Homo sapiens: one gene and its partners. The gene in region 2 interacts genetically with the main gene of each other region. Each region holds a gene or a part of one and is shown on either strand. Other genes may lie near its edges.

Region 1 (3,672 bases), on a different chromosome or scaffold from region 2:
GCCCAGATTTGACCTCCAAAGGTCACGCCCCTAACCATTATATTTCTGCTCCTCAGCATGACCTCCATGCTCCATCTCCTCACCCCACAGTAGCCCACAATCCAGCCATACCCAACACACCTTGCCCCTTCATGCTCCTGTTTTGTCCTGTCAGCCTTGTGAACTTCAGAGCCTAGATCAAATGCCACCTCCCTAAATTCCTCAGGTAGAACTGCTTCTCATCAGCTTGCCTACATCATTTTCCTGAATCTCGATTGTATTTTTTACATTGGTGTTAGTTTGGCTGTATTTACCACTGCAGCTGGGGCCAGACAAGGGCTTAGGTATTAAATAGTACCAGACGGTAGTAAGCACTCAAATAATTGTTCAATAAACAGCTGTCAGAGTACGTACTCCTTAAGAACAGGCTCTGTCTTACTGACTGTTGTATTCTCTGCACATAACATAATGCCTGGCTCGTAGTTAACACTCGCTTGTTGAACAACTGATTGTAGAATCTGTACTTTCTAAGAGCTCACAGTTTAATGAAGTTTATGTTCATTCATTCAATGTACAGCAAATGTTTGCTGTCACTCTGACAGCAGATTCCCAACACGGGCTGCGTCTGCTTCTGTGTTGTTAGGGTGTTAATAGTTTTTAACATTGAATCAAGGTAATACTAAGAAAGAGAAACTACTACTTAATGATTAATAGATGATTTATTTAGGCAGGAATACATATAGTCATCATTGCCAGACTTAATATGAGAGGTGAAATGTTCGATCCAATTTTCCTTCCTGGATAAGTTTTTCTTTCCTATCCTGTAAAGACAGAAAAAAAGTACATTAAAGACAATATATTCTGCCAGTTGGCTATATTAGATAAAAATAAATAAATAAAAAAGGTAAGAAAAACTGCATTTTGGCACAACCCACCGTACAACTGACAAACAGAATGAAACACTCCAAACCTAATTGCAATCCCACTGTCTAAAGCCCAGGGAGTGTGCGAAGAAACAGTAATCCGAGGAACTAAAGACACAGTAAGAAAATGCTCCTATTCAAAAACATCTTACTCACATTTTAGTCATTAGAAATATATTATCCCATAAAACCATATATTGAAAGCAAAATGCAAACACTTTCTGGGAAAATGTGGACTACCTTTCTGTTAAGTAGATCATTCACCAGATAATCAAAATACACGAACTCTAATGGGAATGCAGATGGGCCAGTTAAAGACAAAGCTAGACGAGTGGGCTCCAGTGGCAACACAAGCCTGGGGGCTGCAGCTCAGGGTTTAGTACCAGATGTGGAATGGTTTGGTGCCAAAGATCAGCTTGACTTTCTCTCCAATCATATACCCAGGCTGCTGACGGCAGCTATTCCCCACACAGGCAGCTTGTGCTTCTCTGTCCGTAGAGTATTAATAGGTTTTAACATTAATTTGCAAAATGTGACCAACATAAATAGAATTCACGCAAACAGGAAACGTACTAAATGATTTATGTATTCTGCTAATACTTAACCCAATAAACATCATCTTTTTAAAAAACAAATGAACTAACAAAAATAGACAAAGGTGACTGAAAACTTTCTGTTTTAACTCCTGCTGGAAAGGAATAAAGATAAAAGAAGAGAGGAAGGGAAGGCAGAGGACAGCCCCAAGGTGGGAGGGGCACTGGTGGCAATCTTCAAGAGAAGGAGCTGCAGCTGGTCCCTAGAAAGTGAACCTATCACTCAAATACTAAACATCTGGTCTGAATACTTACCCTCTCAGTTTTGATAATATAATAAATGAAGATGAGGGGCCCAAATCCACACAGAGCTCCCATGAGTGAGTTTTTAGGAGTGGGTCTGAAATTAGGATAGACATTTATTGTTCTTGCATAGGCCCAACGAAGCAAGGCAGGATTTTCCTAAAATTAATGAAAACAAAAAGTTATAGAACTTAAGAAGGATCACATTGAGAAACAAATTCATAGGGACTTTTGTGAAGGAGCACAGACGCATTTTGTTCTCTAGAACAGTTAAGGGTATATCATGAATATTCCTAAACAGCTTCAGGAAAGATCTTTCATTTCTGGTGTTTTTTGAATTCTAATGATCTTGTTCAAATCCTTCAGAATGTAGAAGGCTCATATCACTAATTAGCTTTCTGTTTATTTAAGAATCCTAATCTTAATCTAACTAATCTAACCTAATCTAACTGTCAGAGAAGCCACTTTTTCTCCTTTGTCATTTTCATCTATTCTTCTCTGGACTGTTTTTAGCTTCATTGTCAAGTGTGACCATCAGAACCATGCAGTATTCCCAATGAAGAGAAACAGATTTCATATGCTCTATCATGCTTTGTATTTTGTTTCCAGGACCCTTTCTAATGCTATCACCAAAATAGTCTTTCCAGGCTACAAATAAGCTGTAGGAAGATGAAGGAGGGGGTAGGCTAGCTGAACTGTAAGTTTTTTAAGCTGACCTAGTGTGAAAAGCATTAATTCAGACATTTCACACTATTAGAAGTTTTGTAGAAAGGTCAAAGTTGTTAAAGAAAAATAATCAGACTGTCTTAAGAAAATAATTGTCCATTTTAATATATTTATACTAGAATAACTATCCATGAATAGCAAATCTACCCACAAACACATAAATTTAATTAGCTAAATGCCCAAGTGATTTTACAAAATTAGTCTCTCCAATTAACTGACAGATAAAAATAAGCAAATAAAATCAGCTTTAAGACTTTAATATATAACATGAATATTCAAGGTCCTAACCAACATCAAGAAGTCATGATTTGTAGGACTAAAATAATTTCACAAGGTCTTCCACAGTCATATTTCAAACTAAATTACAACAATTTACCCTGAGATAATCAGCTGCAGCTCAGAAGTTTAAAAAAAAAAAAAAACAAAAAAAAAAACCTTATGATGGAAATGCTTCCGTTCCTTTTAATCAGACTGAAATTCCTCAACGGTGTAAGCACTCACTACTAGATACAAAGTCCCAAAATATCTTCTGCTGTTCTAGAAACTATTGACATTATCACACCACATTAAAATGAAAGCACATGCAAGTGTTCTGCAGCATTGTTTATTATTATGCCTATACTGCCAACAAGAAAAAAGAGGGTAAAGACACAGATTAGGTCCAAGGGGATGTTAAAGCTCAATAGCTGAAAGGATTAATGCATCTATTCTTACATCCTTTCTACTATAAATGTATCTGAATGACTATCAAATGGCAGACTTCTCAATTTGCTAGTCACCTCTCTGTGCTTTAATATCTGCCAGATCTGTCTTCCAGAAACAGACATTTCATTTCATAAAAATACCAATTGCCCCATGACCATAGTTCATTAAGCCCGGTAATGTTATTGAGAGGTTCCAAAAGACACACTATGAAGAGAGTTTTCCTCCTCTGACATCACTAAAAGTCCAGTGCACTCTCAGTAGCATCTGACATGGTGAAAACTCCTGAAAATCATGTCTTCACTTGACTTCCAGGCCCACACCTGCTTGGATTTCCTGCTAACTCTATGGCCATTCTCTCTTCATTTCTTTGCTCTTTTCCTCCTCATCTCCCCAATCTCTTAATATTGGACCTCGCTGGTCTTTCCTATCTACATTTACTCCCTTGATGATGTCATCTGGTCAGATAACTTTAAATAATCTATCTAAAGGCTGATGATTCCCAA
Region 2 (4,226 bases):
TGTCTCTGATCTTTAAGGGTAGCAGGAACATAAAGGAAAACCTGTCCTATCAGACTCCCTCACAGCACAGTAATGCCCAGGTGTCACTAGGCAAATCTTCAGAGAGTACCAAAGAGTATGTATCAGGACCGCGAACCCCCACACCCTCCGCAAATCAATCAGCTACAGCTGTCAGCACAGAGGACTTCCTTATACATCAGCATCTGAGTGATACAGGGACAATAGTGTCACTCAAAAGGAAAGCCTTTGGGTAACACTTCTGACATAAAACTGCAAACTCACAATGCAGATCCCCACCTGGAACTGTATGTCTGAATCCAATATTCATGAGCAGCAAAAGAAAAGCAGTCAGGCCGGGCAAGGTGGCTCACGTCTGTAATACTAGCACTTTGGGAGGCCAAATGGATTGCTTGAGGCCAGGAGTTTGAGACCAGCCTGGCCAACAAGGTGAAACACCATCTCTACTAAAAATACAAAATTTAGCCAGGCGTAGTGGCGGGCGCCTGTAATCCCAGCTACTCGGGAGGCTGAGGCAGGAGAATTGCTTGAACCCTGGAGGCGAAGGTTGCAGTGACCCAAAATCACACCACTGCACTCCAGTCTGGGCGACAGAGCGAGACCCTGTCTCAAAAAAAAAAAAAAAAGAAAAGAAAAGAAAAGGGATCAGAGCTTGGTAAAACAGGGAAATGGATACAGGAAACCGAAAAAGGACCTACCACACGGCAGCGTGGCGTGACCATGGCGAAGAAATTGATTTAAGACTGGCAAGGGAGCCTCAAGGAGTAAAAATCATGAATGCAGGCACTATTATTCCCCCTCCCCACCCCCGCTCTTTTTTTTTTTAGGAGACAGAGTCCGTCACCCACGCTGGAGTACAGCAATGCAATCAAAACTCACTGGAGCCTCAACCTCCCGCGCCAAGCAACCCGCCTTGGCCCCCCGAGTTGCTGGGACTATAGTCATAAGTCACTGAGCCCAGGTAAGAAAAAAAAAAAAAAAACAATTTGTAGAGGCCAGGAGCTGTGGCTCAGGTCTGTAATTCCAACACTTTGAGAGGAGGAGGCGGGAGGATCGCCTGGGTCCTGGAGTTCCAGGCCAGCCTGGGCAACTGGGCAAGATGGTGAACCCTATCTTTTGGGACGGAGTCTCGCTCTGTCGCCCAGGCTAGAGTGCAGTGGCCCGCTCTTGGCTCACTGCCAGCTCCACCGCCCAGGTTCACGCCATTCCCCTGCCTCAGTCTCCCGAGCAGCTGGGACTACAGGCGCCCGCCACCACGCCCGGCTAATTTTTTGTATTTTTAGTAGAGATGGGGTTTCACCGTGTTAGCCAGGATGATCTCGATTTTCTGACCTCGTGATCCACCCGCCTGCTGGGATTACAGCCGTGAGCTACCGCGCCTGGCCTCTCCAGAAACTTTTTAAAAATCAACCACGGTGCTGTAGTCCCAGATACTCCGGAGGCTGAGGCGGGAGGATCGCTTGAGTTTGGGGCTGCAGTGAGCTGTGTTTGCGCCGCTGCACTCCGGCCTGGGCGAAGAAGCAAAACCCCGTCTCTTAAAAAATAAAAATAAAAATAAAAATCGTAGATCGGAGGGTCTGCTACCCTACCCAAGCTGGTTTCCAACTCCTGGAGTCAAGCGATTCTCCCGCCTCGGCCTCCCTAAGTGCTGGGATCGCAGGCGTGAGCCCCGGCACTAGCCTATCTCCCCTTACAGTGAAGACGTTGAGCTGACTACAAGGGCGCTGGGATAGCAGGAGGCCAAGCCAGGTTCCCGTGGCCGACCCGGGGACCTCAACCACCACCCGTACACCAGTGCAAGGCTGAGGAACCGTGTCACTTAAACAGTGAGAGCGACTATTCGACACGTGAACCTTTCATTGAGACTGATCACGGCCATGGTTCTGTCAACACTCTATCATTATGTCAGAAACACGTATCAGGTCCCGTGTGTGTATCTAGAGGGATGGCTACCAACAGAGAAAGAGCCTCCTGCTGAGAGCAGGCCCTGATATGCAACGAACACAGAGTCCCTGCTATGAAAAGGTGACATTCTTAATAATAATAGCTAATACTGCCAGTCCTGGAATGCCCGCAATGGCCCCATTCAACAGACGGGAACACGGAGACTCGGAGAGGTTAGGCAGCCCGACTCCAAAACCCGTCCTTGCGACTACATCGTGCTCGTGCTGCTGACTCAAAATTACAGACGCCTTCGTTCCGTGCTCCGGGGACACGAAAGCGGGGACAAGGACGGCCACCAAGCCAACATGACCTTCGAGGCTTCAACCGCCCCGGTGAAGCGCGAAAACCCGGCTCTACTGAAGCTGCGCGTTTTCAAAACTTGAATCCCACAGGCAGGGCTGAGCGCGAATCGGCGCTCCCGGGGCCGGCTGAGAGACAGCGCAGGGCGCCCAGGCCCTCGGCAGGGACGGCCCGCGTGCGGCCGGAGGGCGGGGGCCAGTGACCTTGACGTCCGCTCTCCCGAGCCGGAAGTGGGCCCGAGGCAGGGTGGAGGGCGCCGGGCGCCCAGGTAGGACTCACCGTCCGGAGGCAGGGCTGCTCGCCCGGGCCCACGCCGCCAGGCACGAGGAGCTGCTGTAGGCCGCGGGGCCAGCAGCCGCCCCGGCCCCACAGCCGCAAACAGCGGTGCGCCATGGCCGCCGCCGTGGCCCTCTCGGCCCGGGACGCTGCGCAGGCGCGGGCAGGCGACGACTGGCGGCCTCGGGAAGCGGGCTCGGCTCGGGGAAAGGCCGCCAGGCAGCGAAGCGCGCCGGCGGCTCACGGAGGAGCCCAAGCTCTCAACGCGGCGTCTCCTGCCGCCAGCCCCGCCCCGGCGCGCTGACGTCGGCGTCTCCTCTCCGAGGCCCGCCGCGACCTCCGCCAGTGCAGAAGACAGGACCAAATGGGAGGAGCATGGGGGCGGGACCGGAGGCGGGGGCCGACGGAGCAGCGTTGGGGGCGCGGCAGGAGGCGGGGCCGAGAAGGACCCTGGAGGGCAAGGGGGAGCTAGAGGCGGGGACCGGGCCGAGGGAGGACTCGGGAGGGCGAGCGAGAGCTGGGGGCGGGGCTGATGGCGCACGTGGGGGGCGTGGCTGGAGGTGGGGCCGAGGAAGGACTAGGAGAGCGAGCAGGAGCTGGAGGCGGGGCCGACGGAGGGGTGTGGGGGGCGTGGCTGGAGGCGGGGACTAAGGGGAGACGCGTGACTGGGATCCTGGGCTTCCGAGCCTGGGCAGCCGGGTGGGCCAGCCAGTAGGAGCGAGGGGGAAGTAGCGAAGGCCCCAGCGGCGGCAGATGGAAGGACCCTCCGAGCGCCAGCTGAGTCATGGGGTGGTGCTAGGCTCTGGAGACACCGAAGCACACATTCCTGACCCCTGGGAGGGCGATGCGAAGATTCACAAGCAGCAGGGAATGTTGGGGCTGTGCCGTGCAGCCTGCGCTCTAGGAACCCTGTCGGGGAACTGGTTCTCGGAGAGCAAGTCGAGTCTTCCAGGTAGTGGAAACTACACATTGTTTCCTGTACCGTGACAGCGGAGGAAAAAGGAGAGGTCTTTGAACTGAGGTGGGGGACTTGGGGGTTTTTCTGAGACGGGCTCTCGCTCTGTCGCCCAGGCTGGCGACGCTGGACCTCAGGCAAAGGACAGTAATCCTTGAGAGACAGGAGACAAAACCAGGTGAGTCCTGTGATTACCCCAGTGGCAGTAAAACAATAACAAAAAGATATACCAGATACACCATCATACCATGCTCACACAAAAGAAAACTGAGTAGACAAATAGATTTTAGGGCAAGGAAATTCCAAAGAAAATTAATTGCAGGGAAAAGAATATCACTAAGGATGAAGAGGATCGGGTTTCTTTTCCAGAGACAGGGTCTCAGTCTGTCACTTAGGCTGGAATGCCATGGTGCAATCGTAGCTCACTGCAGCCTCTAACTCCTGGGCTCAAGGGATCCTCCTGCCTCAGCCTCCCAAGTAGCTGGGACCACACACGCTCGACCACACTCGACTTTTTTTATTTTGTGTAGAGTTGAAGTCTCACTTTGTTGCCCAGGCTAGTCTCAAACTCCTGGCTTTAAGCAATCCTCCTGACTCAGCCTCCCAAAGTGCTGGGATTACAGATGTGAGCCACCCACATCTGGCCAAGAGAATTATTATTATTATTATTATTATTATTATTATTATTATAAAGGGGTCAGTTCATCAGTAGGACATAACAACCCTAAACATC
Region 3 (4,213 bases), on a different chromosome or scaffold from region 2:
AATTTTTTTTTTCAGAGCCCATTAGGAGACAGAGGGAGATTTGAGCCTGTTTGTATTCGTGATACAAGGGGAAAAAAAGAGGGAGAAGGTGAAGGGAGGAAGGAAGAGAGGCTCTGAGAAACCCGGAAGGTCAGACTTGGTGCGGACTTCCTCCAAGGGCTACCCCACCCTCTCCAAGCGTGGCTAATCCCAGGGCCCCTTCTGGCCCACAGTGCAGAACCACCCACTCCTACGGGGGCCTCCTTCAGCCTCTCTGGGGGTTCCCAGAAGGGCCCTTGGGCACTTGGGCAATGTCAGGGGGCTCAGGTGCATCTTCCTAGACACGAAACGAAGAGGAAAGCGGAGGCAGCAGCGGGGGCCACAGGCTCCCATGCAGCAGCTCGGAGCTGTGCTGTGCTTCGCTGGCGGCCATCCGTGATACGTGTGACACCGTGGGGCCCTGGCCCTGGGACCTGCCATGCAGCCTTGAGATCTCATCCAAGAAGCCCCCAGACCCCAAGGTTCAGGCCTGGCGGGGCAGCAGAACGCCTTTGGAGCTCAGCTCAGCCCTACAAACAGGACCAACGCCCACACCAAGGCCAGAGAGGGCTACCAAGTTTCACCTGGCCCAGCTTCCGGCAGCCCCCAACCAGGCCACTACCCTCACCTGAACACCGCGGTCCATCACCAAGCCCCACCCACTTCTGCCAGCCCTGCCCCCACAAGGACCCACCTCTCGCATGCAAGCCCCGCCCCCAAGGCCCAGCTCACCTGCAGCCCCGCCCCACCAGGCTCCACCCCATCGCCTGCAAGCCCCATCCCCAAGGCCCAGCTCACTTGCATCCCCGCCCACTAGGCTCCACCCTGTCACCTGCAAGCCCCGCCCCCAAGGCTCAGCTCACTTGCAATCCCCTCTCCCACTGGTCTCCACTCCTCACCTGCAAAGAGCCACCCCTCGCTAAGCCCCTCCCATCACTTGCACAGCCCCACCCAACACAGCACGCCATTCCAGGAGCCCCTCTTTTCACCAGCGCAGCCCCGCCCTTCACCAGGCCCCACTTCATCTGCATACACACGCCTCTCGCCACGCCCCACTTCTCGCCTGCCCACTTCCCCCTCCTATCATCTGTCCACATCCTGCTGCTGGCCGAACCCCGCCCCTTTCGGCAAGACGGCCCCGCCCCTTTCTACCCGTACCACGCCCCTCGCCTTGCCCGCCTCCTTCGGCACGTCGGCCCCGCCCCTCCCGCCCATCTCCGTCCGCACCGCCCTCCCGCCCGTCCCAGAGCAGTGGAGGCCTACCCTTTTCACCTACAGCCTATCGCAGAGGACGTCGCTGTTCGCGTTGACCAATAGGAGTGGTAGCTGTCACGGCAAGCCCCGCCCCGCGCCCTGCGTCGGGTTAAGAGGGGGTTCCTCGCCAGCCAGGTGCTCGTCATGCGCAATGTGGCGCTGCGGCGGGCGGCAGGGCCTGTGTGTGCTGAGGCGGCTGAGCGGCGGGTGAGACGCTGCGACGGGAGGCGCTCGGCGCGCTGGTACCCGGGAGGGGAGGGTCCAGGGCAGGCCGGAGGCGTAGGGGTCCTCGTCCCTGCGCCCGGGGCTGGCAGCTCCCCAAGCTGTGGGCGTCCCGCACCCCGAGCCCTTCCTGGAGCTCCCGCATCCGAGGCTCCGAGGCCGGAGGACCTCGGAGCTCCTTCCTACTCCCAGGGGCGATGCCCCGGGCTGGGGGCCGGGCCTGCCCGCGGCGCTCCCGGCGGGGCCCTCCATTAGCGTGGGCTTTAACGGGGGTAGTAAATGGGGTCGGCATTTGCGGTTCTCGCTGACAGCTTTGCTCCTAGTTCATTTTTGTTGGGAGGCCGAGTCCTTAAGAGACCCGAGGCGCCCACAGCCCATACTTAAAGTCTCGCTGTGTTCAGAGAACTGACGCCTCCCGGAATTGAACTGTTTTGTTTTTTTAATGACTCAATTTATGGGGAAAAAAATGACGAAGCAGTTTAGTGTTCATGGTAATCCACGAGCCCGTGTTTAATATAAGGTAATAGTTCAGCGCTGCCGGCCCAGGCCGGGAGGCACGGGGCGTCCGTGGCATGAGTTCGGCCTGGCCTTACCGCTCAGGAGTTTCCTATCATGTCCTTGATAAGTAACTTCTTAAAACGCTTCTGTCCCATAATTCTGAAATTTGCTAAATCAGTAAGCAAATGTTGGTTATAGCATATCTTCATAATATTGCCAGTGACTGAATAGGTTTTTTCTTCCTGTACATATTATCTTTAAAATAAATATTTCGGTGGGATACATTAATGTAGAAAATCCCATACGACATATAATACAATTGGAGAGAATAATAATTACGTGTTTTTTAAGAGCAGGGATCTTGCTCTGTTTCCCAGGCTGGTTTGATCCCCCTCCTCAGCCTCTCGCATTGCGGGGTTACAGGTGTGAGCCATCTCATTCAGGTGAGAATAATTATTAGAAATAGGTTGGGCGCGGTGGCTCACACCTGTAATCCCAGCATGTTGGGAGGCCAAGGCGGGCAGACCACTTGAGGTCAGGAGTTCAAGACCAGCCTGGCCGACATGGTGAAACTGTCTCTACTAAAAATACAAAAATTAGCTGGGCGTAGTAGTGAGCACTTGTAGTCCCAGCCACTCAGGAGGCTGAGACAGAATTGCTTGAACCCGGGAGGTGGAGGTTGCAGTGAGTCGAGATTGCACCGCTGCACTCCAGCCTGGGCAACAGAGTGAGATCTGTCTCAAAAAAGAAAATTAGTGTCCCTGTGACCAAGTTGAAGATTCCCCTAACTGCTCGTAACTCTCTCCCTCCCTCTTAGATTATCACGGTCATAACATACAGAAATGTCCTTGCTTTTTTTTTTTTTAATATTTTACCATTTTTATGCGTTCTGACAATGTCTTGTTACCTATTTGAATAATACCTGTTTAGGATAATACTGTATCATGTGTATCTTTTGTTTCACGTTATGTGACCCATATCTTTGTTACATGCCACTGTAGGCCCTTATATTGGTAAGGTTTTTTTTTTTTTTTTTTTTTTTTTTTTTTTTTTTTTAATTGAACGATTAGTCCGCACTTTATCCATTCTCTGTCGATACACCTCCGGGTGAGTTGAGTTTGGGACTGTCAGGGTTCGTGCTGACATTTTTGTCTGTGAGTGCTGGGGCCGCAGTGTAAGGTGTGGACGATAGAGACCAAGAGGTGAATGGATTTCCAATCTTCAGCATTTTTTTCTTTTTTTTCCGACAGTCTTGCTCTGTCACCCAGGCTGGAGTGCAGTGGCGTGATCTCGGCCCACTGCAGCCTCCACTTCCCGGGTTCAAGCGATTCTCCTGCCTCAGCCTCCCAAGTATCTGGGACTACAGGCACCTGCCACCACATCAGGCTAATTTTTGGCCAGGCTGGTCTCGAACTCCTGACCTCAGGTGATCCGCCCACCCAGGCCTCCCAAAGTGCTGGGATTACAGACGTAAGCCACCACGCCCGGCCTCTTCAGCCTTTCTAAAGAATGCCAAGTGCTTTTCCAAAGTTATTCCACTTTGTACTCCCTGTAGCAGTGTATGAGAGTTCCCGGTAATATTAGGCTTTTTAAGTTTTCAGCAATTCGGTAGGCATGTAATGGGATTTAACTGTAGTGTGAATTTCTTGGTATACTGTGAAGGCTTTTGAGGATTCTGTGAAGGAAAGAAGCCCTTTTGTTTAAGAGTTGTCTCTTAAACAAGGGGAATTTAAACTGTAATTGTATTATAGTTATTTGTGAACAAGTGTAAAGAAAAGGTTTCCAACATTGAAGCTTTAGTTAAGATAAAGATCATTAAAATGGAAAGGACCTTACCAGAAATCAGTTTTCTGGAATGTGCAAGACTTTGGAAGATGCAATATTTAATTTTTCTTTAATAATCTTTATTACATGAGAGTATTTTCACTATGTGGCTGAATAATGTTAGCCAGATACTTTTCCTGCAACTCATCTAACTTAGATGACTTTTAATCTAGACATGCACACCACAGAGCGTGGCGATGGAACAGTAACCGGGCTTGTGAGAGGGCTCTGCAGTATAAACTAGGAGACAAGATCCATGGATTCACCGTAAACCAGGTATGGGTCGTCCTCGGCACCTCCTTATAAATCCACATACATTGCAGGTGCGGCTTCTGGCCTATGTACGGAGCCCTTCAGGGCGGAGACTAGCGTTTTTGTCCTTGTGTCCCAAGGCCCT

What was found. A genetic interaction does not mean that the proteins touch.
Region 1: changes in AFG3L2 (region 2) and NDUFB4 together harm fitness more than expected from each alone (negative genetic interaction), as found in Homo sapiens cells (one large-scale study listed by BioGRID).
Region 3: changes in AFG3L2 (region 2) and PITRM1 together harm fitness more than expected from each alone (negative genetic interaction), as found in Homo sapiens cells (one large-scale study listed by BioGRID).

Annotation. Positions count from the first base shown.
Region 1 is NC_000003.12:120,599,336-120,603,007, reverse strand, and holds the end of NDUFB4 (NADH dehydrogenase [ubiquinone] 1 beta subcomplex subunit 4), read right to left. Parts: intron 1,898-3,672; coding exon 1,751-1,897; coding exon of another isoform or gene 1,715-1,750; exon of another isoform or gene 801-1,714; coding exon 738-800; 3' UTR 501-737; downstream 1-500. UniProt on the Homo sapiens protein: Accessory subunit of the mitochondrial membrane respiratory chain NADH dehydrogenase (Complex I), that is believed not to be involved in catalysis. Complex I functions in the transfer of electrons from NADH to the respiratory chain.
Region 2 is NC_000018.10:12,374,428-12,378,653, forward strand, and holds the start of AFG3L2 (mitochondrial inner membrane m-AAA protease component AFG3L2), read right to left. Parts: upstream 2,801-4,226; 5' UTR 2,656-2,800; coding exon 2,542-2,655; intron 1-2,541. UniProt on the Homo sapiens protein: Catalytic component of the m-AAA protease, a protease that plays a key role in proteostasis of inner mitochondrial membrane proteins, and which is essential for axonal and neuron development.
Region 3 is NC_000010.11:3,169,983-3,174,195, reverse strand, and holds the start of PITRM1 (presequence protease, mitochondrial isoform 2 precursor), read left to right. Parts: upstream 1-1,413; 5' UTR 1,414-1,416; coding exon of another isoform or gene 1,417-1,423; coding exon 1,424-1,479; exon of another isoform or gene 1,480-1,982; coding exon of another isoform or gene 1,983-2,014; intron 2,015-3,989; coding exon 3,990-4,092; intron 4,093-4,213. UniProt on the Homo sapiens protein: Metalloendopeptidase of the mitochondrial matrix that functions in peptide cleavage and degradation rather than in protein processing. Has an ATP-independent activity. Specifically cleaves peptides in the range of 5 to 65 residues.